Linked DNA regions of Homo sapiens: all the other regions are linked to region 2. The links come from fine-mapping of genetic effects on gene expression. A gene starts in region 2. Each other region holds a variant in brackets. All regions are shown on one strand. Distances are from middle to middle.

The links. PIP is the estimated chance that this variant, and not a neighbour inherited with it, causes the effect.
Region 1: its variant is fine-mapped to the expression of METRNL in whole blood (TOPMed, PIP 0.92).
Region 3: its variant is fine-mapped to the expression of METRNL in whole blood (TOPMed, PIP above 0.99).
Region 4: its variant is fine-mapped to the expression of METRNL in whole blood (TOPMed, PIP 0.98).
Region 5: its variant is fine-mapped to the expression of METRNL in whole blood (TOPMed, PIP above 0.99).
Region 6: its variant is fine-mapped to the expression of METRNL in whole blood (INTERVAL, PIP 0.96).

Annotation. Positions count from the first base shown.
Region 1 is chr17:83,202,142-83,206,227 of GRCh38, reverse strand. The region is part of intron 2 of LOC101929650 (a long non-coding RNA gene); the gene reads right to left. Among named protein-coding and RNA genes, the nearest start is that of METRNL, 120 kb to the right of the region's middle. RefSeq lists a silencer at 620-779. The variant A/G (reference allele first, on the strand shown) is at 2,458.
Region 2 is chr17:83,077,349-83,081,418 of GRCh38, reverse strand. It overlaps METRNL (meteorin like, glial cell differentiation regulator), which reads right to left and starts at 1,810. Exons shown (of 4, transcript NM_001004431.3): 1 at 1,434-1,810. The coding sequence starts at 1,603.
Region 3 is chr17:83,051,983-83,056,067 of GRCh38, reverse strand. All of the region lies in intron 1 of LOC124904094, which reads right to left. Among named protein-coding and RNA genes, the nearest start is that of QTGAL, 2.3 kb to the right of the region's middle. The variant C/T (reference allele first, on the strand shown) is at 1,812.
Region 4 is chr17:83,039,864-83,043,938 of GRCh38, reverse strand. The region is part of intron 3 of QTGAL (queuosine-tRNA galactosyltransferase); the gene reads left to right. Among named protein-coding and RNA genes, the nearest start is that of QTGAL, 9.9 kb to the left of the region's middle. The variant C/G (reference allele first, on the strand shown) is at 2,042.
Region 5 is chr17:83,097,996-83,102,070 of GRCh38, reverse strand. No RefSeq gene overlaps it. Among named protein-coding and RNA genes, the nearest start is that of METRNL, 20 kb to the right of the region's middle. RefSeq lists an enhancer at 2,652-3,648. The variant C/G (reference allele first, on the strand shown) is at 2,194.
Region 6 is chr17:83,046,659-83,050,744 of GRCh38, reverse strand. It overlaps QTGAL (queuosine-tRNA galactosyltransferase), which reads left to right. Exons shown (of 13, transcript NM_001009905.3): 2 at 1,960-2,076; 3 at 2,175-2,274. Among named protein-coding and RNA genes, the nearest start is that of QTGAL, 3.1 kb to the left of the region's middle. The variant T/C (reference allele first, on the strand shown) is at 2,481.

The DNA.
Region 1 (4,086 bases), 120 kb before region 2:
TATTTTTATCTATCAACCATCTATCATATATCTACCTACCTACCTCTGCCCTTCTTTCTCTCTACAAATTAGAGGCCACATCCCTGGCCGCTGAAGCCTTGTACCCTGACCCACTGTCTGAACCTGATGGAGTCTAAATGCAGTGAGCGGGTGCCAGCCTTCCCTGGAGCTCTGCAGAGGCAAGGAGGGGGTGGATGGAAAGACGGGAGTCCCTCCCCTTAGGTGAGGGGGGGAACTAGGGCCCGGGGAGATGCCCAGGCCTGGCGGCTGGCGTACGTGGGTTCTCTGTGGCCAGCAGGCGGCGCTGCAGGAGGGGAGATGCCCAGGCCTGGCGGCCGGCGCACGCGGGTTCTCTGTGGCCAGCAGGCGGCGCTGCAGGAGAGGAGATGCCCAGGCCTGGCGGCCGGCACACGTGGGTTCTCTGTGGCCAGCAGGCGGCGCTGCAGGAGGGGAGATGCCCAGGCCTGGCGGCCGGCGCACGTGGGTTCTCTGTGGCCAGCAGGCGGCGCTGCAGGAGAGGAGATGCCCAGGCCTGGCGGCCGGCACACGTGGGTTCTCTGTGGCCAGCAGGCGGCGCTGCAGGAGAGGAGATGCCCAGGCCTGGCGGCCGGCGCACGTGGGTTCTCTGTGGCCAGCAGGCGGCGCTGCAGGAGAGGAGATGCCCAGGCCTGGCGGCCGGCACACGCGGGTTCTCTGTGGCCAGCAGGCGGCGCTGCAGGAGCGCTCAGAAGCAGGGGCCTGGGCCTGCTCCGGGGGAATCCGCCCACCCCACCGCGGCGGCCTCTCCTGAGGTTCCCTAGTGGCCGCGAAGGGTGGGCTCAGGGTGAGGGGTCAGGCCACATCAGTGGGTGCAGGGATGGCTGCGGCCACGGGAGGGCGTCCAGGGAGGAGGCCGGAGCTCAGGCCCACTCTGCACACCCAGCCCGCCACCTCCCCCGGCTCTCTCTTCCTTCGTGCACATTCTGGGGCTTGTGCTTCTGCTGTGGTCCCATTTAGCCAACCTGGCCAGCCTCTCATGCCTGCTTCATGGGTGAGACGTGGAGGCCAGGTCAGCCACAGACCCCGGGGCACACGCCGCAGCCAGCACAGCAGGTGGGCGTCTGCGGCCGGGGCCAGCGCAGGGCCCACTGGGCCTCGGAGGGGCCTCCCTGCCGACTCTGCCCCCGTCCTGTGGCCGTAAGTCCACCCAGAGCGCTCGATCTTCCGTCCACCAGGCCAGGGATGCGCGCAGAGTAAGGATGTGTGTGTCTACGCATGTGGGGGTGTGGGTGTGACGGGGTGTGTTCTGTGTGAGAACATGTGTGTAGTGTCCACATGTCCTCTGTGCGTGAGTCCCTGTGTGTGATGTTGTGTTCTGGGTGTGAGTTCATGGGTGTGACGGGGCGTGCTGTGTGAGAACATGTGTGTAGTGTCCACATGTCCTCTGTGCGTGAGTCCCTGTGTGTGATGTTGTGTTCTCGGTGTGAGTTCATGGGTGTGACGGGGCGTGTGCTGTGTGAGAACATGTGTGTAGTGTCCACATGTCCTCTGTGCGTGAGTCCCTGTGTGTGATGTTGTGTTCTCGGTGTGAGTTCATGGGTGTGACGGGGCGTGTGCTGTGTGAGAACATGTGTGTAGTGTCCACATGCCCTCTGTGCGTGAGTCCCTGTGTGTGATGCCTGTGTTCTCGGTGTGAGTTCATGTATGTGTGTGTGAGTTTATGCTCTTGTGTGTCAGCACATGGGTATGATGTGGGTATGTTCTCTCTGTGGGTGAAAACGTGTGTGATGTGGTTCTTTGTGAATCTCTGTGTGTGACGTGGTGTGTTCTCTGTGTGAGTCTGTGTGTCTGGTGAGTGTGTCTGGGTGTGTCTGGGTATGTGCGTGCTGTGTGTCTGTAGTATGTGTTCCTGTGTCTCTCTAAGCTGGTAGCTTCATCTCTTCCATGTTCTCTGACATTCAGAGGAATTTTCTCACAAATGTGTCCACAACATGGCTGTGTGCCATTTCTCCTGCTTTGGGGAGCACCAGTGTCTGCAGAGAGAAACGTCCCTGCTCCTGCCCCTGCATTCACGGCATGACCCTGTTTGCCCAGCTTCCCCCCATACACAGCCCCGGACACACCCTCCTGGGGGAATGTGGTGGGCTCCGCACTGACCGCAGGATCTGCCTCTCACCAGGGATTCATATCCACACGAAAGGGCCAGAGCAACAGCTGGCACATCCCCTTCCTTCCTCCACCGTTCCCACTTATTCTTCAACCAGCCCTAACCAGGCAGGGAGCCCAGGTCCCACGGAAAATCTCTATGAGAAAGTAAGACAGAGGGCAGACCTCCGCCGTGGTCCCTGGAGAACCAGTCGGCGCTGACACCAGGAGCAGGAACTTACTCTTTCCCAGAGGCAGGCAGGGACGGTCATCCTTGCCCAGAGGCCTCGCCTAGAGTGGGGTCCCAGCCCTGCAAGGGACCCCTAGGAAGGG[A/G]AAAGGAGCCACTTGTACATCCTTGCTTCCTACGGAGCCCTCACATGGAGCACATGGCCACTTCGGTCTGGGTCTCTCCGTGCTGCTCACTGTGCTGGTGGGGTGTGCTGCGGAGGTCTCTGGGGAGGTCCCAGGAGCGAGAATGGACCAGGCCCAGGGTAGAGGTGCAAGAGGGTCCTGCCCTTGGCTCCCTCCCCCGGCACAGGCCAGTCAAGGTGGAGAGGAGGCCCCAGCTTGTCCAGCTGGCAGAGGCTAGCCAGGGGGACTGACATGGTGTCACTCTAACCCTCATTTTTCTCAGCCCTTCCATTCCTTATGACTTCTTGCTAGGAGAACCCTGACACCATCCCTGCTGACACTGGAGATATTCCAGAGAGGCCGATCGTCATTGAAAGGGAATGCTCCGTGAACCCTCTGAGCCCTCTTTGACTTCAGAAGCAATAGTATCACAGCTCACAAATTCAGTAGAAAGTCCGAGTTGCATCAGTTTGGAAGTCATGCGGTCAGGCTTCCTGTACCCAGAGGGTGATTCAGCCGCAGAAAGCTCTGGGCTGCACCCCACCCACCCCTGGCCTTCAGGGCCCAGCCACATTGAGGCTGCAGGCGAGCCTGGCCCCCATGCCTGAGAGCCAGATTCCATTCCCTGGCAGCCTCACCTTGGATCGGACAGGGAGGGATCCTAGGACACCAGCCTCGTCTATCCTCCCTGGGACACCCTAGAACCTCACAGCCTGTGGGAAACACCAGGGCATGGAGGGTCAAGCCTACAAAATCCCCCAGTAGGTGATTAGGATAAGGTGAGCACTGGCCCTAGCTGACTCAGGCCAGCCCCCCAAGCAGCCAGACCACGTGAGAAGTGATGGCCACACAATGCTCTGGGTGTCTCAAGGAAAGTCCAAGAGCAGTGGCACTCCGGGCTGCATCCTTGGAGTAAGCACAGAGCAAGACCCCAGCATGCTTTGCAGACCCCGCCTTATGAGCCCTGCACCCCACTGCTCCGGGAGGGGTCAGCACCCCCATGCCAGGGCTGGTTTTCGGGGTGGGTGCCTGGACAATCTGAAGGACCTTTCGGCCACAAGGTGTTGAGAACTCTGCAGAGGATGCTGGGGATTAGCACAACAAGCTCTGCTCCTTCAGGCTGTGCGAGGCCTCATGAAAGCTCCTAAAAATCAGAGGAAGGGCCATGGCAGAGCCTGGGACAAGTGGGCAGCTCACAGAGGGGACTGGGTGCTTGCCATTAGCCCAGACTTCTCCCACTGCTCCTGCCTCAACTGCTACTGCCCGGAGTCTAAGCCCACTTTGTTGACAAGTACCCATTCTATAGAGAGCCTCGCCTAACTCCAGGTAGAGGCAGAAAAGTGTGTGTAGATCAAATGGCCCAGCTGGCAGCAGAGCCAAAAGTCATGCTTACTTGCTGGCCAGCCTTGCACAAGGCACCAAGGGTCACCTCTGCAGGCTTCAGATCCTGCCCTCTGTGAACAGTCAAAAAGAAGGTGTCAGAAGGAGCTAGAGGATGCAAGGGTGGCCAAGGGGCACAGAGGAGGGTCAGGTTACACTGGGAGGGAAGAGAGGCAGCCTTTGCATTCTCTAGGAGAAGCAGGGCGGGAGACTTTGGAGCCCAGCTCCCTG
Region 2 (4,070 bases):
ACCCTGAAAAGGGCGCCGGCCCCTTCTCGACACACTCGGCCTGGGTGGCGGGGGCGGCGTTTCTGGCTTCGGTCTGCTGGAGCGGAACGCCCCGGGCCTCGGTTCGGGGATGCACCGACCCGCCGGGCAGAGGCAGCGAGCCGGGGCTGAATCACTCCGCGGGGGCAGGGGCGGCCCCAGAAGAGCCGTCGGCCTCGGAGGCTCCCGGCGCCGGCGTTCCCGGCCGACCCCCCCCAGACCTCCATCCGCCCGCGGCCCCGCTCGGCCGAGAAGGGAGGCGGCCGCTCCCGGGACAGCCGGGCACCGCCCACGGCCCTCGGGGCGACTCTGCCCCCCAGCGCCACGCCCCTTCCCCCGGGGAGGCTCCGCCGGGGGCGCTGGGGGGCGACTGTGGCTTCGCGGGGACCCGGAACGGAGGCTGCGGCTGCGGGGAGACCTGCGCCCGCCCCGCGGACACCACCCGCCCCGCACCGGCTCTGCCCCGACCTTCTCGGAAAACAGCTTCGCTCGACATCACCGCGTGACTCGGCCCGCGGCGGGGGCGGGGGCGGGGGCGGGGGCCGCGCCGAGGGGAAGCGGGACCCAGGCCCGGGCCAGCCCGGCCACGGCTCTCCGGGAGGCGCGCGTCACTCGGGTCCCCGCGCATCTGCGAACCCCGGAACTGGCGACTGCGAGGCTCGCGCAGGGCGGGTTCGGCCGCGGTGCCCTCGGCGCCCTGGGCTTCGCGTGGGAGCGGCGGCGGCTCCCGAGGGGCAGTCGCGGTCGGCGCCGCTCTCGGCGGCCACGCTTGAGTCAAAAAAAAAAAAAAAAAAAAAAAGTCCTCGGCCGCCACCGCGGGTGGGGGGGGGGGGGGTCGCCCAGCGCAGCGCGCGCCGCGGCCAAGGGCGGCCTGACCTTCACGGGGCAGGGGCGGGGGGCCCGGCCGGAGCCACACTCGGCCCGGCTCACAGGTGCCCGCCCGCGGCTCCCCGAGACGGAAGTGGCCCCCGCTGCGGTCCGCGCCCGATCCCCGAAACCGCCGCTCCCTCCCGCGGCCGTCCCTTCCCGCTCTGGCCCGGGGCGGCCTCGGGGCGCGCAACTCCCGGAGCCTGCCAGGAAGGGCCCGAGGACCGACCCCCGCCTGCCCCCGGGATGGGGTCGCGGGACCGGCGGCCCCCGAGGCTCGGACACGCGCGGAGCCGGGACCCACCCGGCCGCGCTGCAGGCGCGCCTCCCCCGGGCGTCCTCCGGGCCGGGAACCGGGACGCCGCGGGCTCTTTTGTTCTAGAACCGGGGGCGGGGGACAGCGGGCACCGGACTGGGCCTGGAGAGCGGCCCCCGGAGCCCCTGCCCCGCGCCCGCCCCCGGCCGCGCCCCCGCACGCTCGGCCGGCCCGGGACGGGAGGGGACGCGAGGGGAGGGGGCCGGGCCGGGGTCGCGCCGCGCACACTCACCTCCCCTTCCAGCTGCACCGGTCGCTGGAGTACTGCGCGCCCGCGCCGCCCAGCAGCCCGGCCAGGAGCAGGAGCAGCAGCGGGAGCGGCGGCGGGGGCGGGCCCGGGGCGGGGGGTCGCGGCCACGGCTGCCCCGCGCGCCCCCAGGCCGCCCGCGCCGCGCCCCGCATGCTCTGGCGCCGGCTCCGCCGCCCGGCCCCGCGTCCGCGACCCCCGGAGCAGACCCCGGAGCCGGCGAGCCGGGCGGGGGCGGGGCGGGCTTCGAGTCCGGGTGGTCACGTCGCGCGCCCCCCGCGTCCTCCGCGCGGCCGCCCGCCCATCCCGGCCCGCTGGAGCCGCGCGCAGAGCTCCGCGCCCGCCGCCGCCGCCGAGCCTCTGAAGTTGGCGAGTCCGAGTCCGCCCGGCCGGGCTCAGCTGGGGGGTGGGGCCCACCCGCCGCCCCGCCCCGCCCCCGACCCCGCCCCCGACCCCGCCCCGCGCCGGAAACTCCTCCCGGGGCGCCCGGCCGGACGCGCAGACACCGAGTCAGCAGCGAATCGGGGGCGCGGGCGCCGGGGCGGGGGGCGCTGCAGGAGGAGGGGGCCGCGCCGGGCGGCGAGCGGGGTCCGGAGGGAAGAGCCCGGCCTGGAAAGCGGAGTCCGGGGCCGGAGGGGTTGCAAGGCGAGGGCGGGGCGGAAACCCGAGACCCCCAAGTAGTGGCCGACGCGAGCCGCGGTCGCCCCCCGCAGACCCCCGCGAGGCGGTGCCGGGGCCGCATCCTGCGCCCCATCCTGCGCCCCATCCTGCGGGCAGCCCCGGCGCGGAGCGGTAAAGGAGGCTCCCGGCCCCGCCGGTTCTGGGTCCCCCGCGCCTCGCCAGCGGGCGGTGATCAGGGGCGATCCGGGCGCCCCGCGTTCCGCAGAGTTGGTGCCTCGGGAGTTCCCGGCTCCCTCCTGACCGGGGGGGAGGCCCGGCGGTGAGCCCGGCTTCCCTCCCTCCTCCCGGAGGACGTGCAGCCGCCGCGCCGGGGCCTCTGCCGAGCGCTGCCCACTCCTCGCTCCGGATACGCGGGGCCGGGTGGTTCTTGGGGTGGGGACGTCCTGCGCATGGTGGGATGTTGGCAGCACCCTGGCCCCCGCACTCTGGGTATCAGTAGCAACCCCCGCCCCAGCTTTGACAACCTAAACTCTCTGCAGATTTGGCCAAATCCCGCCCCCACCCCGTGCCCGCGGGGCAGAATCACCTGCGGAGCGTCCTGCTCGAGTGTGTTCCTCGGAGTCGGCGCCTTCCCCAGGTGGTCACCGCGGCCACCACGTGCCTGACCCAGTGGGGGGGACAGCGGAGACCCCCGCCCGGACTGGGGAGGCCCTAGAGACTCAGGCCAGAGAAGGGGAGCCAGAGGGTGCCGAGGGCCCCCCAGGCAGGAGAGGGCGGAGCTGGCCCGCCCGGCGGTCCCCGCTGCGATGGCAAAGCTGGCTTCTGTGTGCTGCGGGTCAGTGGCCCTGCCCGAGACGCCTGGTGTCAGTTCCAGAGCCGAGCGCAGCATCCAGCGGTGGGGAAGCTTGGCCTTGTCCCCTTTTCCAGCCAAGATACCTTCCAGGAGGACTTGCGAACGACCTGTGCAAGTCTGAATAACTGGGTTGTGACTACCAGAGGAGGCGGGGAGAGGGCTTTGAAAATTGTGAGTCTGCAGGGACGGAAGTCACCGGCAAAGGCAGGTGGAGCCCAGCCCCCAGCCCAGGAAAGCTGGGACAAGGGTGAGGGTCTGAAGAACTGGAAGGCGATGACAGTGACCACTGAAGGTAGTTTCATTGTAAGGATCTGTTCAGAGCACCCACCCCATCGAAAGCCTGGAGCCAGGACCTTGCCCAGCACATCAAGTGACATCACCCTGAGGCTCAAGGTCTGGTGGAGGTGCATTTCGGAGCTTGGAGACTGCCCCACCCACCCCCGTCTGCTCTAGGAGTGCACCTCCCCCCACCCCCATCACTGCAGGTACCAGGGTGCCCAGTGGAAAGGGACCTGCTGTGGAAAGGGACCTGCTGTGGAAAGGGACCTGCGGCTTCACACCTGTGCGCAGCAACTGCTTTCCATGCCCACCAAGCATAAGATAGCAGCCCCCCCAGGCCCGGTCCACCCTTGAAGGGCCACATGGCCTATCAGGGTCCAGATCATCACACCACGGAAGAGGCAGGGCAGTGCTGGGATCTCTTGAGTTATAGATGCGGACATGGGGAACTCAGGACCTGCCGTGACCTGCTCAGGGTCTCAGAGCCCCTGGTGGCTGCTAGACCGAAGGGGAGAGGCCGCCTCTGGTCAGCAGGCAGCTGGTTCCAGCCTAGGCTGGGGCAGAGATCTGCCACCTGGCAGGATGCCCAGCCTCCTGTGCCCAGCGGGCTGTCCTAAGACTGGGATCGTACGATGGTGAGTATGGGACCCACGTGTACTTTTCAAAACCCGTAGAAAATACAGCACAAGAGTGAATCCTGATGGAGGCTTGAGACATTTGTAATAATAACGGATCAATATTGGTTCTTTGACTGTCACACGCCTACACCCTAATGAGAGAAGGTAATCATAAGAGAAACTGGGTCAGGGAGAGGGTGTGTGGGGGACCTCTACCATCTGCTTGGTGTTTCTGTAAACCTAAAACATTAA
Region 3 (4,085 bases), 25 kb after region 2:
CCTCTGGAGACTTGGACACACGAAGGTCTAGGGGATCAGGCTGTTGAAGGAACCTGTTGGGCTCTTGTCTTTAAAGCTTGAACTCAGCCCTCACTAGCTGCACTCACATCAGAATCATTCTTACTGGGGACCCAGTGTCCCCCAAGTCTAACACCGTCCGTGCGGACCTGCAGGGAACCTCTGTCTCCCCACCCAGCACCGAGTCTAACACCATCTGTGCGGACCTGCAGGGAACCTCTGTCTCCCCACCCAGCACTGAGTCTAACACCGTCCGTGCGGACCTGCAGGGAACCTCTGTCTCCCCACCCAGCACCGAGTCTAACACCGTCCGTGCGGACCTGCAGGGAACCTCCCCACCCAGCACCGAGTCTAACACTGTCTGTGGGGACCTGCAGGGAACCTCTGTCTCCCCACCCAGCACCGAGTCTAACACCGTCCGTGCGGACCTGCAGGGAACCTCCCCACCCAGCACCGAGTCTAACACTGTCTGTGGGGACCTGCAGGGAACCTGTCTCCCCACCCAGCACCGAGTCTAACACCGTCCGTGCGGACCTGCAGGGAACCTCCCCACCCAGCACCGAGTTTAACACCGTCCGTGCGGACCTGCAGGGAACCTCCCCACCCAGCACCCAGTCTAACACCGTCCGTGCGGACCTGCAGGGAACCTCTGTCAACCCACCCAGCACCGAGTCTAACACCGTCCGTGCGGACCTGCAGGGAACCTCCCCACCCAGCACCGAGTCTAACACCGTCCGTGCGGACCTGCTGGGAACCTCCCCACCCAGCACCGAGTCTAACACTGTCCGTGGGGACCTGCAGGGAACCTCTGTCTCCCCACCCAGCACCGAGTCTAACACCGTCCGTGCGGACCTGCAGGGAACCTCTGTCTCCCCACCCAGCACCGAGTCTAACACCGTCCGTGCGGACCTGCAGGGAACCTCTGTCTCCCCACCCAGCACCGAGTCTAACACCGTCCGTGCGGACCTGCAGGGAACCTCTGTCTCCCCACCCAGCACTGAGTCTAACACTGTCTGTGGGGACCTGCAGGGAACCTCTGTCTCCCCACCCAGCACTGAAGGCTGCTGAGAAGTTCTTCGATTTGGAGACCTGATGTCTTGGTCCATTTGTGCTGCTGTAACAAAATACCTCTGACCATGTGATTGATAAACAGTAGAAATGTATTGCACACAGTTGTAGAGGCTGAGAAGTCCAGGATCCAGGCGCCAGCAGACTTGGTGTTTGGTGACAGCCTGTTCCCCAGAGATGGTACCTTCTATGTGTCCTCACGTGGAGGAAGGGACAGAAGGGCTCCTTCAAGTCTCGTTGAAGGGCACTCGTCCGTCATGAGAGGACAGCCCTCACGGCCCAGTCACCTCCTTAAAGCTCCATCTCCTAACCACATCGCCTTGGGGGTTAGGTGTCAACATATGGTTTGGGGGGACACACACATTGAGACCACAGCACCTACTCCAGGCCCCTGGCAACTGGTACTGAGTCCTCTGAATATAGCCAGTATTCGCCAAAACCTTTTGCACAAACAACAATTAAAAATAAAGAAAACTGGCTATCTGCAATGGCTCTCACTTGTAATCCCAGCAGTTTGGGAGGCCAAGAGCTCGAGACCAGTCTGGGCAACAGCAAGACCCCATCTCTACAAAAATAAAATAAAATAAATAAATACAACTGCCCACTCAGTGAACCCAAAGCTGTGGGGCGTTTTGTGTCACTTCCTCTGCTGGTGCCCACGTGACGTCAATCATCTTTCATCAGCACCTCACTTCCCTCTGAACGAAGACCACACGATCTCCACC[C/T]GGCCAGCTCTGAGGCCCCAGGTCCTCCTTCCTGTCTCTCTCCAGGGTACAGTGTCAGTGCCTTCTGTCCGGGCCCTCTGCTGACCTCTCCCCGAGGATCTTCCTACTGCGAGGGCAGTGATCTCAGGCCCCACCACCCTTGGATTTCAGGACCCCACCTCTGCAACCCTGCATTTCTGAAACGCACCTTGGCACTTTGAATGTTCCCAAAAAGGAGATTCTAATCAAATTTGAATTAGGGGGAAGTCAGTGAAAAGCAAATTTCTGGCACCAGGAAATGTACAGGAAGGAAGGTGAGAGGCAAGCCCAGTTCTGGACACCATGTGCTGTGGAGGGGCAGAAGCCATCTGTGACCCCTGACCTCTGGCCCTTACCACCTACCTTATCATGAGCCTACGGCGCATTCTGGCAGCTACAGGGCTACTTTTTACTGAGTCCTTTACAATGAAATGATTCCTAGTACCCCAACCTCTGGAGAACATGAAGTCCCTGGAAGCAAATTCTCAGATAGCTTTTGCTGAACGGTAAATAAGGCTGCATTTTCACTCATGTGACTTAAGCAGTCCACTTGTAAAACAGGCTTTGCAAACAAGGAGGCAATTTAAGGGAAAAAAAACCATCTATGAAGTGATGCTTAACAGAAGTTTGGCTTTGTTGTAACGGTTAATTGACAGAATGATTTGCATTTAATCTTAGTTTTGGACAGCCAAGGATTTGTCCAGGAAGGGCTGCTTACAGCCATGCTCATTAATTGTGAATTACTCATTACTTCAGATCAGCTGGAACAAATCCCAAGCGGGCTTAATCTCTGTGTGCAGGCAGCCCAGGGCTAATGGCAGCAGTCCTTTTTATTGACCCCCACGGCCCTGTCCCCAGTCAACCTCCTCCAAGCAGGGAGTTTCCAGAGGCCTCACAGCCGCCTGGGAGACCCCTCATGGCAGGCTGCTCCCTTGACAAGTTCAGAACTGCTGGGGTTCCCGGCCGCGCGTTCAGGACTCAAATCTGGAGATATCCGCTCTGTGCTCCTCAAGTATAAGGTTAGATAGGGATGGGGCCTGGCCTGTGTTCCTGGCAGGGAAGGCCACCTCTGAGCTCCCCCAGAGCCCGGCCGCCTTCTCCGGGTTCCCAGCCCTGCAGTTCCCAAGGCTGCATGCGGAGGCGGAAATGAGGGCAAAGGTGGAGGGTACCCGGAGCTACTGAGGTCATGTCTTTCCCCAGGCACCCCTTCTCCTGGGGGACCTCACGGTGGGGTCAGGGCCTCACTCCCGGGCACCCCTCCTCCTGGAGGACCTCACGGTGGGGTCAGGGCCTCACTCCCGGGCACCCCTCCTCCTGGGGGACCTCGCGGTGGGGTCAGGGCCTCACTCCCGGGCACCCCTCCTCCTGGGGGACCTCCTGGTGGGGTCAGGGTCTCACTCCTGGGCACCCCTCCTCCTGGGGGACCTCGCGGTGGGGTCAGGGCCTCACTCCCGGGCACCCCTCCTCCTGGGGGACCTCCTGGTGGGGTCAGGGCCTCACTCCTGGGCACCCCTCCTCCTGGGGGACCTCGCGGTGGGGTCAGGGCCTCACTCCCGGGCACCCCTCCTCCTGGGGGACCTCCTGGTGGGGTCAGGGTCTCACTCCTGGGCACCCCTCCTTCTGGGGGACCTCACGGTGGGGTGAGGGCCTCACTCCTGGGCACCCCTCCTCCTGGAGGACCTCCTGGTGGGGTCAGGGCCTCACTCCTGGGCACCCCTCCTCCTGGGGGACCTCGCGGTGGGGTCAGGGCCTCACTCCCGGGTACCCCTCCTCCTAGGGGAGCTAACCCCGGGCACCCCTCCTCCTGGGGGGACATCTCAGTGGGGTCAAGGCCTCAGGCCTGGGCACTTCTCCTGGGGGACCTCGCCCCGGGCACCCTTCCTCCTGGATGACACCCCGGTGGGGTCAGGGCCTCACCCCTCTCCTGGGGCCGTCAAGTGTCCTGCACGCCCTGCTCTCCCTACCGCGTCTGTCTGAAAGGACGCCCTGCAGTCCCCTCGTCCTCCCCGGTCAAGTAGCACAGCCCACAGCCCGGGTGAAATGCAACGACCTTTTACATATCAGCCTTGCTTGAGGCTTTACAGCAACTCCAGGCCGCCTGGCTTGGGTTTGCAGCGCGGCGCCCTCGCACAGCCCCGCCTTCCCCGCGGCGGCGTCTACGGGGGACCAGAGATTGTGACGCGCGCCCTAGGGGAGAGCAGGAGGCTTCCACGGGCCAAGGAGGCGGCTCCGAGAGGTGACCCGGGACCGGGGCGT
Region 4 (4,075 bases), 37 kb after region 2:
TTGAGTCAATTTTGGTAGTTTGTTTCTAGGAATTTGTCCATTTCATCTAGGTTATCTAACTTTTTTGGCATATGTTGTTTTTCACACTGTCATAATCCTTTTAGTTTCTGTTAAGTTTGGGAGTCATGTACCACTTTTTATTTCAGCATTTTGAGCTGTCTTTCCTTCTTTCTCAGTCTAGCTGGGTTTGTCAATTTTGTTGACCCTCTTCAAAGAATCAACTCTTTTTGTTGATTTGCTATTGTTTTGTCATTGTTTGTTTATTTTCACTCTAATCTTCACTGTTTCCTTCCTTCTGCTAGCTGTGTGTTTAGTTTATTTTTCTTTTTCTAGCTTCTTAAGGTGTACTTTTAGGTTCTTGATTTTAGACCTCTTTTATGTAGGCATTTATAGCTATAAATTCCTTTCTATGCACTGATTTTTCTACATCCTGAAAGTTTTGGTTTGTTGTGTTTTTGTTTTCGTTTGTCTCTGAGTATATTCTAATTAGCCTTATGATTTCTTCTTTGACATATTGGTTGCTGAAGAGTATATGGTTTAGCTTTCATTTATTTATGAATTTTTCAGTTTTACTTCTGTTACTTATTTCTAGTTTCATTTCACTGTGGTCAGAGAAGATACTTCATATAATTGCAATCTTTAAACAAATGTTTAAGGTACATTTTATGGCCGGACGTGTCACCTGTCCTGGAGAATGCGCTGTGCACACCTGAGAATGTGTGTTCTGCTGCTGTCAAGTGGAGTATTCTGTATATTTCTGCTAAGTCTAGTTGGTTTATAGTATTGTTCAAGTTCTCTGTTTATTATCTTCTCTCTAGATGTTCTCTCCATTATTGAAGGTAGAATGTTGAATCTCCGACTGTTACGGTAGAACTGTTTCTCCCTCCAATTCAGTCAATCTTTGCCTTACTTAATTTTGTGACCCTCTTGTTAGATGTGTACAGTTTTATGCTTGTTATATCTTCTTGATCAATTGACTCTTTCTTTGTCTTTTCTAATAATTTTTGAGTTGAAGTCTATTTTTTCTGATATTAGTACAGCCACGCCAGCACTCTTTGATTACTAGTTGCGTGGAATATCTCTTTCCCTTGTTCCACTTTCAGCCTACTTGTGCCTTTGGATCTGAAGTGAATTCCTCATATAGACAGCATTTAGATGGATCATAATTTTCAAGATCCGTTCTGCCAGATTTTGCCTTTTAATTGGAGAATTTAGTCCATTTACATTTAAAGTGATTACTGACAAGGAAGGACTTTTGCCACTTTGCTATCTGCTTTCTATATGTCTTATGTCTTTTTTATTCCTCAATCCTGTATTACTACCTTCTTTTCTGTTTAATTGCTTATTTCCGATGTGCCATTTTGATTCCCTTCTCGTTTCCTTTTCTGTGTATTTCTAAATGATCGTCTTAGTGGTTACTGTGAGGATTACGGTGAACATCTTAAATTTATAACAATGTAGTTTGAATTAACACTTAGCTTCAATCATGTAACATTAACATAAATTCATAAATTATTTTCATGAATGTAGATTTAGATTTATAATTGTTTCCTGGTGTGTGTGTGGCAGTAGGGGGCAGGGGCTCACTCCATCACCCAGGCTGGAGCGCAGTGGCGTGATCTTGGTTCACTGCAACCTCCACCCAGTAGGTTCAAGTGATTCTTGTGCCTCAGCCTCCCAGGTAGCTGGGAATACAGGTGCCTGCCAGCACGCCTGCGTAAGTTTTGTATTTTTGGTAGAGAGGGGGTTTTGTCCTGTTGCCCAGGCTGGTCTCGAATTCCTGGACTCAAGTGATCCACCCACCTTGGCCTCCCAAAGTGTGGGGATTATAGGCATGAGCCACAGCACCTGGCTTGTTTTCTGTATTTGTTTTAAAAGCATATAGGAAAAATACAAACCAAAATAGTACTATCTTTTATATTTACCTGAATAGTAAACTTTATCCCTGTTCTTCATTTGTTCTTTCTCTATGAGTTCCTGTTTAGTGCCCTTTCATTTCAGCCCTACAATGAACTGCCTCAGTTTTTGTTTATCTTAGAAT[C/G]TCTTACTTGCTTCTTCATTTTTGAAAGATGACTTTGCTGGATATAGGATTCATAATTGACAGTGTTTTTCTTTGAGCACTATGAATACAGATGGCCCCCAGCCTGTGATAGTTCAACTTACCATGTTTCAACTTTATGATGGTCAAAGGCAACACAAATTCAGTAGAAACCATGGTTCTGTCAGGATACCAGGCAGTGGCCATGAGTCACAGCTCCCAGGCCCCCAAGCATTTTTGACTTATGATGTTTTAAACTTACAGCAGGTTTACCTAGACATAGGCTCACCCTCAGTTGAGGAGCATCTGTGTGTGACCCCATTGCCTGTGGCCTTCATTGTTTCTGATGAGAAGTAAGCGGTTAATCTTACTGAGGGTCTCTTGTAAGTGACAAGTGATTTTCTCTTGTCGCTTTCAATATTTTGTCCTTATCTTTGGTTTCAGCATTTTTACTATGATGTGTTTAGCTGCGAATCTTCTGTGTTTATCCTACATGGAGTTTGTTGAGCTTCCTGGATGTGTAGATGAATGTTTTTCAATAATATGAGAATTTTTCAGCCATTATTTTTTCAAACTTTTTTTCTGCTTATTTCTCTTGCCTTTCCGTGTGGTACTTGCATTGTGCATATGTTGGTATAGTTATTGGTATTCCAGCTTTCTCTGAGATGCTTTTCACTTTCTTCATTCTTCTTTGTCTCCATTTTCAGATTCAGACTTACCCATCTATCTCTGTGTTTGCTAATTTTTCTTCTGCATATTTAAATATACTCTTGAGCTCCTCCAGTAAAATTTTAGTAATTTGAGAATTTTTCAGCCATTTTTTTTTTTTTTTTTTGAGATGGAGTCTCGCTCTGTCACCCAGCCTGGAGTGCAGTGGCATGATCTTGGCTCACTGCAAGCTCTGCCTCCCAAGTTCACGCCATTCTCCTGCCTCAGCCTCCCAAGTAGCTGGGACTACAGGCACCCTCCACCACACCCAGCTAATTTTTTGTATTTTTTAGTAGAGATGGGGTTTCACCGTGTTGGCCAGGATGTTCTCGATCTCCTGACCTTGTGATCCGCCTGCCTCGGCCTCCCAAAGTGCTGGGATTACAGGCATGAGCCACTGTGCCCAGCCTCAGCCATTATTTTTTCAAACTTTTTTTCTGCTTATTTCTCTTGCTCAAGAATATTTTTATGCTCAGTTGACAGATTGGCTGGGTATAGAATTCTAGGTGCAAAATAATTTTTCTTAGAATTTTAAAGGGATTGCCTCATTATATTCTAGTGTCCATGTTTCTAATAAGAAATCTTACACCAGTCTGACTCTTGTTATTTTAAAGGTATTGTTTCTCAAAGTATTTAAGATTTTTCTTTTTGTACTTTTGAATTTTGAAATTTCATGATGCTGGGTCAAGCTGTGTTCAGGTTTCTTCATTCACCCTCTGTTTTTATGTTGAATGATTAGCTTGTGTTCTTAGCTTTGATTGTAATAGATCAGGGTCCTTTTAGTTTGACTTTAAAGTTTCCATATAAGACTTGAAAAAAATATGCCTGCCTATATTGCATGGGGCTGAAAAAGTCAAGGTTGGCAGATGATACGTTTTTAGTTGGTGGACGGGTTCCTACAGATTTTAGGAGTCACAGCTTCTCTAAGATAATGGTCGTCAACTTTGTGCACGTTAGAATCATCAGTGAGTTTTAGAAAACCAGTGCCTGAGTCTCACCCTAAGATATTCTCATGTAATTGGTCTGGGGTGCAGCGTGGGCATTGGGATTTTAAAAGCTTTCCAGAAGATTCTGAGACACATCCAGGATCAGGAGCCACTGCTTTAGAATGTGCTCAGGAATGGGTGGCATCACCCCACTTTCTAGTGGACTTGGTCCTGAGGGAGTCTTACAGCTATGACGTATTTCAAGGGCAAGCGGCTGAGGGTTTACGGTCCCTCTGGAATGTCCCCATGTGAGAGCCTGGGGAGTTAAGTCCTCTGTTGGGTCCTGTTCAGATCTGTGAGACTCACAAAATCACAGGCTCACCTGCGGGGTGTCTCAGTGGAC
Region 5 (4,075 bases), 21 kb before region 2:
GAGTACACACCTGGCCCCAAGGGGCTGTTCCGTGGCAAGGAGCACGCCCTGGGAGGCGCCAGCCGTTGGGAAATCAGACAGAGTCTGCTCCACCGGGAAAGCCACACGGAGCTCAGCTGGACTCAGGCTCGGGGGAGGAAGCTCAGGCGCCTGATCGCTGGGGCAAAGCAGCTGGAGGCCGGAGAGAAGGGCAGGCCCTGACAGCAGGCAAGGGTGGCCTGCACCCACCAGGCTGGTCTCCTCACCGGACTGAGGGCCTCTCTTCCCCAGGCACCCACCAGGCTGGTCTCACAGGACTGAGGCCCTCTCTTCCCCAGGCACCCACCAGGCTGGTCTCACCAGACTGAGGCCCTCTCTTCCCCAGGTCCCTGGCCGGCCTCCATGTCCTGGTCCCGGGCCGGCCTCCATGTCCTCCACCACTCAGCCTCAGTGGATCACTGGACAGACTGCAGGGAGTCTTTGCCAGCCTTGGGGTTTTTCCTCCCCAGGTTCCAGTTCTCCCACAAATGCCCTCTGCTCACCTCTGAGAAGTACAGGAAGAGCCGTGCTCAGAGGTCCCACTGGAGACCCCTCCAAGGCACGGCAGGTGCCAGCAACAGCAATGCCAGGGCACCCTGCCCAGAAGCAGAGCCAAGTGAGCAAGGCTGGGGGCTCTGGAGGTCCAGACAAGACCCTCTGGGGGCAGGAAAGTCAAGTGTCCTGGTCGAGGTCACACAGTGGCTGGGACCAAGGACCCCTCTCCACGACCCTGGGAAGCACAGCTGCCCGTGCAGAAGTCCAGACCCTGGTGGAGCTCGGCTCGGCCCCACGGCACGGGAGAGGCAGAAGCTCCAGCAGTGAGTTCTCCCTGAGCTGCAGCTGCAGCGAGGCATCCCCGGCACAGCCCCACGGCTCCAGGTGGAACCGGGAGGAGGAGGAGCCTGGGGACCACTCAAGAGTAGCCGGGCGGGGAGCACAGCCCCTGCAGCGTCTCCTGGGCAGAAGCAGGTGTGGTCAGGACGAAGGAAGCACCTGGTCTGTGGCCCAGACAGTGTCTCCTTCTATCCACATCCGGAGCGACACTGAGGTGGGCTGAACAGAGGCTCCGGTGGACAGAGACCCGTAGGCACCGCCCAGCCTGCCCCTGCTCAAGCTGCCCGGGTCGCTTCTTACAGAGCCCCACTGTGCTGCACTCACATCATCTCACAGGTCCTGCCACCCTTGTCCACCTGCCCACAGACCCGCCACCCCCCTCACGGTCCTGCCAACCTTGTCCCCCCTCCCACAGACCCGCCACCCCCCTCACGGTCCTGCCACCCTTGTCCCCCTCCCACAGACCCACCACCCCCCTCACGGTCCTGCCAACCTTGTCCCCCCGCCCACAGACCCGCCACCCCCCTCACGGTCCTGCCAACCTTGTCCCCCTCCCACAGACCCACCACCCCCCTCACGGTCCTGCCAACCTTGTCCCCCCGCCCACAGACCCGCCACACCCCCTGTCCGGCCCAGGGAAGTGCAGTGCCTATGGGTGGGACTGGCAGACCCGCCGGCCGACACCCAACCTGGCAGCCGCTGTGGCCAGAGACCAGTTATCTACCATCAAGAATGTGCCCTTGACTATTTTTATGTCATGTGTGTTTTCTTTCTTGCCTCAGTTTTTAGTAAAGTTCCTTGTTGGGCATTTTAGTCCAGCTCAGCAGTGCTAAAAGGGGAAAGAAAGGGGCGTTGGGCTGTTTCTGGGCGGAGAGTGCCGGGCAGAGTGGCTCCCGGCCCCTCACCCTTCCCTGGGCCCTCCACCCCTCCCGCAGCGCCCCTCCCCCTCACCGGAGCCCCCCGGGTGTATTTTTGTTTCTTTGTTTTTTAGCATATTTTTCATCTTGCCTCTGATCAAACTGATGGCTAGAAAAGTATGTGGCTTGGTAAGCAAAATTCTTCTGAAGAAATTCCAGAGCCCCCGGCCGCCGTGACCTCACCGCCCCGACACCAGCCAAGCCTCCGCTGTCTTTATAAATCACGGCCCGCCCGGCTGGCAGCACACAGTGGCCCAGTGTTGACTCCGGATTCCTCACGTTCCCTGGCGTCCCCCGTGGGGCCCCTGCCCCGGCGGTCGGGGAAGCAGAGCGGGCAGGCTGGGGGTCCCTGGGCGGCCATCCCCTCCCTGCTGGGTGAGCCGGCGTCCTCCCTGCAGGTCTGCGTCCCCACGTCCCGCCCCTG[C/G]CTTCCGCCCCTCAGAACCCCTGCCATAGCCGCACTGCCACGACCTCCTGCTGTTAGTGGCCGCCCCCACCTCCGGAGCCCGACCCACTCTGCTCCGAGGCTGCTGGGATGGGCACCCACCTGTAACCAAGTGTGAATAGCAGAGCCGGTGCTGGCTGCAGGCCAGACACCAGCAGGGCTGATCAGGCCCCAGGCCGCTCCTCAGGTGGGGGCAGGACCCAGTGTGCACCGGCTGAACCGGTGCCCACTGCAGGCTGGCACAGGGGCTGCACTGGGAACCAAGGCTCTGCCCTTCTCCCAGGACTCAGTCTCTGTGGGAGACCAAGACCCACAGCCCAGGCTGATGTCCTAGAGGGAAGACCTGGGGGTAGGGGGCACTGGGGAGGGGAGGCATGGGGCCTGGTGGGGGAAGGAATGGCAGGAGGGGAGGGGGTGTTGGGGGAATCCCACAGGAGAGGAAGGAAGAGGCTGAGGTCACAGGCACAACAAATCCCAGGAGAGCAGGGCCCAGGAGCACCCGGTGCCGCCTCAGAAGGCTCTCGGGCCTCTGCTCACAGCCCCGTGCCCCTCCTGGTATTGAGTGACCCACCTGCCGTCCTTCACAAGGGCGGGTTTAATCCCAGCAGGCAGGTTCCCAGGAACATGCCCGTGCACAGTAGGCCTCCCTCCATGCTCGCCCAGTGAGTGGTCAGGGAGGAGAGGACCCCGGGGTCTCACCAGCTCCTCTCAGGACCCTCACCATTTTGACCGCACAAAGGAGCAAAGAAGGGTTCCCGAGGGCAGCCAGGGCCGGGACCCCACCAACCGGCCTGACTGATGAACTCCGGGGGCCGCTGCCTGCACAGAAGGGGAGCGGACAGCCCGGCCGGGGCCAATTCCCACCACGCCGGCCTGGTTTCTAAACAGTTTAATCAATTAGCGAGGTGGAAGCCCTCAGTGTCAGCTGCAGTGCTAATGAGGGGCCCCACCCCCACCCGTGGGACCTGCAGCCGGACTCTGGCCCCTCAGCAGGGCCTCCCAGTGCGGTGGGGTGGGGACAAGGAGGGGGGCTGGGAACCCAGCTGTGCAGCCCCCGCCACAGGCTCAGCCACACGGTGTCCAGTGCCCGGCCCTCCCTGCAGCCAGCTTTCCTTCTGGAACCGCAGGGAACCTCTGACAAAGCCCTCCCAGCAGAGGAAGCTCAACTCACAGGATAGCCAGGAAGGGGGGGCTCCTCATGTGGAGGGAGTCGAGGTCGAGGGAGGATGAGGGGTGAGCCAGGACTGTCCCTGCCACCCCAGCGTCCCAGCTGACCCCTCTCTCTCACACACACAGAGACACATGTGAACACGGACCACATTCCTGCCCAACCTGAGATGGCTTGACATGCCGGGGCCTCGGCCAGCCCTGTGACGAGCTGGAAACCGAGTCACAGCTCCCATGGGGCCCAGCGTTTGCAGATGGGGGACCAGCATGGAGCTGTGGGCTCTGGTTGCTCTCAGCTTCTCTCTCATGGCCATCAGCCGACTGGACCCCAGGGTGAAAGGTGTAGGCGTCTGGGCATCCAACAAGCAGGAGGCCCCCCGCCACCCCACATAGGCTGCCCCCTCGACCCGCAGAGTTCTTGGAAAACCTCCAGGGCTTCCCGGAGGGAAAAGGGCAGGTGGAGGGGGCAAGTGGGGGCCGGAAAAGTAGGGGCAATCCTCACGCTGGGAGCAAGGAGGAGCCTTGCCAACTCCCCTCCCCTTATGGGGGGACTGACAGATACGGGGCTCCTGGGAGAAGCCACCGCCCCCGAGAGCTCCAAAGCCTCTGACTTGTCTTGGGTAAGTCTCACTGCTCTTGCAGCACCTGGGGGACGATGGGGGCCGCCCTGGAGGGGAAGCAGTTGCTGTCCGGTGCA
Region 6 (4,086 bases), 31 kb after region 2:
TGCCCTTAAGCCCCGAACACCTTCCCCGTGCTCCGGCAGAGGCTGGAGCAAAGGCCCTCAGGGTTCAGACCCAGCCAATAGGCCGATGCAGGGAACAACCACAGGGATGTAGGATTAGCAGTCGCCCAAAGGCTCAGCATGTTTTCTGTTTTTTGTTTTTTTGTTTGTTTTTTTTCCAGCCTTTTTTCTTTTTTATTCCAGTCTTACTAAAATTGGTAACAGGTGAATCAAGGTCTATCTTTGATAGAAACATTATATTTTGTAGATCTTGAGAAAAATTATTTCCTTCTTTTCCTCTAAGTAAATCCAAACTAAGGTAAATTTGTAAATAAATTAGGGAACTCGTTTTATTTTTTTTTTAATTTTTATTTTTTGAAATGGAGTTTCACACTCGTTGCCCAGGCTGGAGTACAATGGCGCGAGCTCGGCTCACCGCAACCTCTGCCTCCCGGGTTCAAGCGTTTCTCCTGCCTCAGCCTCCCGAGTAGCTGGGATTACAGGCATGCACCACCACACCAGGGTAATTTTGTATTTTTAGTAGGGACGGGGTTTCTCCATGTTGGTCAGGCTGGTCTTGAACTCCCGACATCAGATGATCTGCCCGCCTCGGCCTCCCAAACTGCTGTGATTACAGGCGTGAGCTACCGCGCCCGGCCAGAACTCGTTTTATTCTTATTAACCTAAGTCCAGGAAGAGACAGAGTGAGGTTTCATTTGTAAAGAACTTGACTAAATTGTGTTTTCAACACAATTTCAACTTTTCTTTTTTGGATATAAATTAAGGGTGAGGACAGACTAATCTCTTAAGTATCGCTCCGTATCACTTAATATTATAATGTATGAAATTAAGACTTAACTCCTGTAATCAGTTGTTTTGTTGGCATTGAATTTCCTGGTTTTACTCCATCCCACTTTATAAATTTTTGTTTTGGGCTTCATGAGAAAAGGACAATGAGAAAAGGACACTAGCTACACTAGCCCGAAACGAAGTGTAGGACAAAGGAATCGAGAGATGGACGTCAGGCCTCCCATTTGCTCAGCTGGGTTCTTTGAACACCTCCTGCCCGATACTTTGTTAAAACATTGTTTTTTGTGGGCTGAGGGGTTACTTAAAGGGGTTACTTTGTTGCAGGTTTTCTAACATGGTTTGCCGAAATGCTTATTCCACCTAGAACATGACCAGCCAGCACCTGTAATCCCAGCTACTCGGGAGGCTGAGGCAGGAGAATGGCGTGAACCCGGGAGGCAGAGCTTGCAGTGAGCCGAGATCGAGCCACTGCACTCCAGCCTGGGTGACAGAGCGAGACTCCATCTCAGAAAAAAAAAAAAAAAACCAACCAGTTATTTTCATGAGTGAGTTGGAAGATACCCAGATACTTGTTTCAACCAAAATGATGTTTCTGATCAGTGATTGGAAAACTCATGATTTACCATTGAGTTGGGAACAATTTGATGCCTTTCAGTTTTTTTGTTTTGTTTTGTTTTGTTTTTTTGAGACAGAGTCTTGCTCTGTCACCCAGGCTGGAGTGCAGTGGTGCAATCTCAGCTCACTGCAAGCTCCGCCTCCCGGGTTCACGCCATTCTCCCGCCTCAGCTTCCCGAGTAGCTGGGACTACAGGAGCCTGCCACCACGCCTGGCTAATTTTTTGTATTTTTAGTAGAGATGGGGTTTCACCATGTTAGCCAGGATGGTCTCAATCTCCTGACCTTGTAATCCACCCACCTCGGCCTCCCAAAGTCCTTTCAGTTTTTTTTTCACTTTCAAAAACATGTAGAAGGCAGTTCAGGGAAAGCTAAGACGTAAAGAATCTTACAAGCATGTTAAGAGCCTGGAGAAAAGGAGTGGACACCTTTTGTTTGTCACGGCATATGTGCGGGTGGTGAAGGGGAGGTAAATTAGAGCCATGGAAAGGGAACTAAGTTTTCACACTTCTGTTAATCCATTTCTTTTGAATTCCAGTCTATTATCCTCCCAGTCCACAACGCTGAACCGTGGCTGGACGAATGTTTGAGGTCTGTTTTGCAACAGGACTTTGAAGGTACCATGGAGCTGTCTGTTTTCAATGATGCCAGTAAGGTTTGTAGGAACTTCCTGTCGGGTGACTCAGCCCCAGTGTAAGCAACGGTTGACTGTTCGGAGGGAAGTTTCCTGACCTGCCAGTGTTCTGCTTTCAGGACAAGTCTGGGGCTATCATTGAAAAATGGAGAGTGAAGCTGGAAGATTCTGGTGTCCACGTGATCATTGGGGGGCACGATTCTCCCTCTCCTAGAGGCGGTAAGTAAACATGCTTAGTTTATTAAACTATAATTCGTGGTTTCTTATCAACTTACGTACCGAAACAGTTTCATGTTGTTCAAATACTGACAAAAAGTATCCTGGTGGTAATTGGATATACCACTTATTAAGAACCTAGTAGAGGCCAGGTGTGGTGGCTCACACCTGTAATCCCAGCACTATGGGAGGCCAAGGCAGGCGGATCC[T/C]TTGAGGTCAAGAGTTCAAGACCAGCGTGGCCAACATGGTGAAACCCCATCTTTACCAAAAAATACAAAAATTAGCCGGGCGTAGTGGCACACGCCTGTAATCCCAACTACTTGGGAGGCTGAAGCATGATAATTGCTTGAACCCGGGAGGCAGAGGTTGCAGTGAACCGAGATCGTGCCACTGCACTCCAGCTGGGGTGACAGAGCAAGACTCCATCTCAAAAAAGAGAAAGAGAGAGAGAAAGAGAGGAAGGAAGGAAGGAAAGAAGGAAGAAAGGAGAGGGAGAGAAAATGAAAGAAAGAGAAAAAGAAAGAAAAGAAAGAACCTTAGTAGACCTAAAATTTTTTATTGTTTGGTAGGATTTATTATAGACCTAAATTTCTTATTCTTTGGTAAGGATTTATTATAGACCTAAATTTCTTATTCTTTGGTAGGATTTATTATAGACCTAAGTTTCTTATTCTTTGGTAGGGATTTATTGTAGACCTAAATTTCTTATTCTTTGGTAGGGATTTATTATAGACCTAAGTTTCTTATTCTTTGGTAGGGATTTATTATAGACCTAAATTTCTTGTTCTTTGATAAGGATTGATTATAGACCTAAGTTTCTTATTCTTTGGTAGGGATTTATTATAGACTTAAATTTCTTGTTCTTTGATAAGGATTGATTATAGACCTAAGTTTCTTATTCTTTGGTAGGGATTTATTATAGACCTAAATTTCTTATTCTTTGGTAGGGATTTATTATAGACCTAAGTTTCTTATTCTTTGGTAGGGATTTATTATAGACCTAAATTTCTTTTTCTTTGATAAGGATTGATTATAGACCTAAGTTTCTTATTCTTTGGTAGGGATTTATTACTATGATCTGAATGTCTGTGCCCACCCCGAGATTCATATTTGGAACCCCCAGGGTGATAGTATTAGGATGACATTAGGTGGGGACTTTGGGAGGTGATTAGGACATGAGGGTGGGGCCTCACCAATGAGATTAGTGCCCTTATAAAAGAGGCCGCTCAGAGCTCCCTCACCCCTCCTGCTCTGTAAGAACACAGGGAGAAGGCACCTCTGTGAGCCAGGAAGGGGCCCTCACTAGACACTGAATCTGCTGGAGCGTTACTCTTGGATTTCCCAGGCTCCAGAACTGTGAGAAGCCCCTTCTGCCACCCAGTCTGGGGTATTCTGCGGTGGCACGCAGGCTCTTCCAACCCTGGCAACCACTCGCCTGCTTTCTGTCTCTGTAGATTTGCCTGTTCTGGACATTTCATGTGAATGGAGTCAGGTTCCACGTGCTCTTTTGTAACCGGCTTCATTTAGCATAACGTTTTAACGTTCCTCTGTGCTGTGGCATGTATCGTGCTCCGTTCCTTTTTCTGGGAGGATGATATGCAGTTGTACATAAGTACCATGTTTTGTGTGTCTGTTTGTCAGGCAGTGGACATTTGAGTTGTTCTACCCTTTGATACTGTGAATGATGACAGTCTGAACATTTGTGTACAGTTGTTGTTTGAACACTGGTTTTCAGATCCTTTGGGTATATTCCTTGGTGTAGAATTTCTGGCTCATATTGTAATTCTGTGTTTAACATACTGAGGAGCTGCCAAA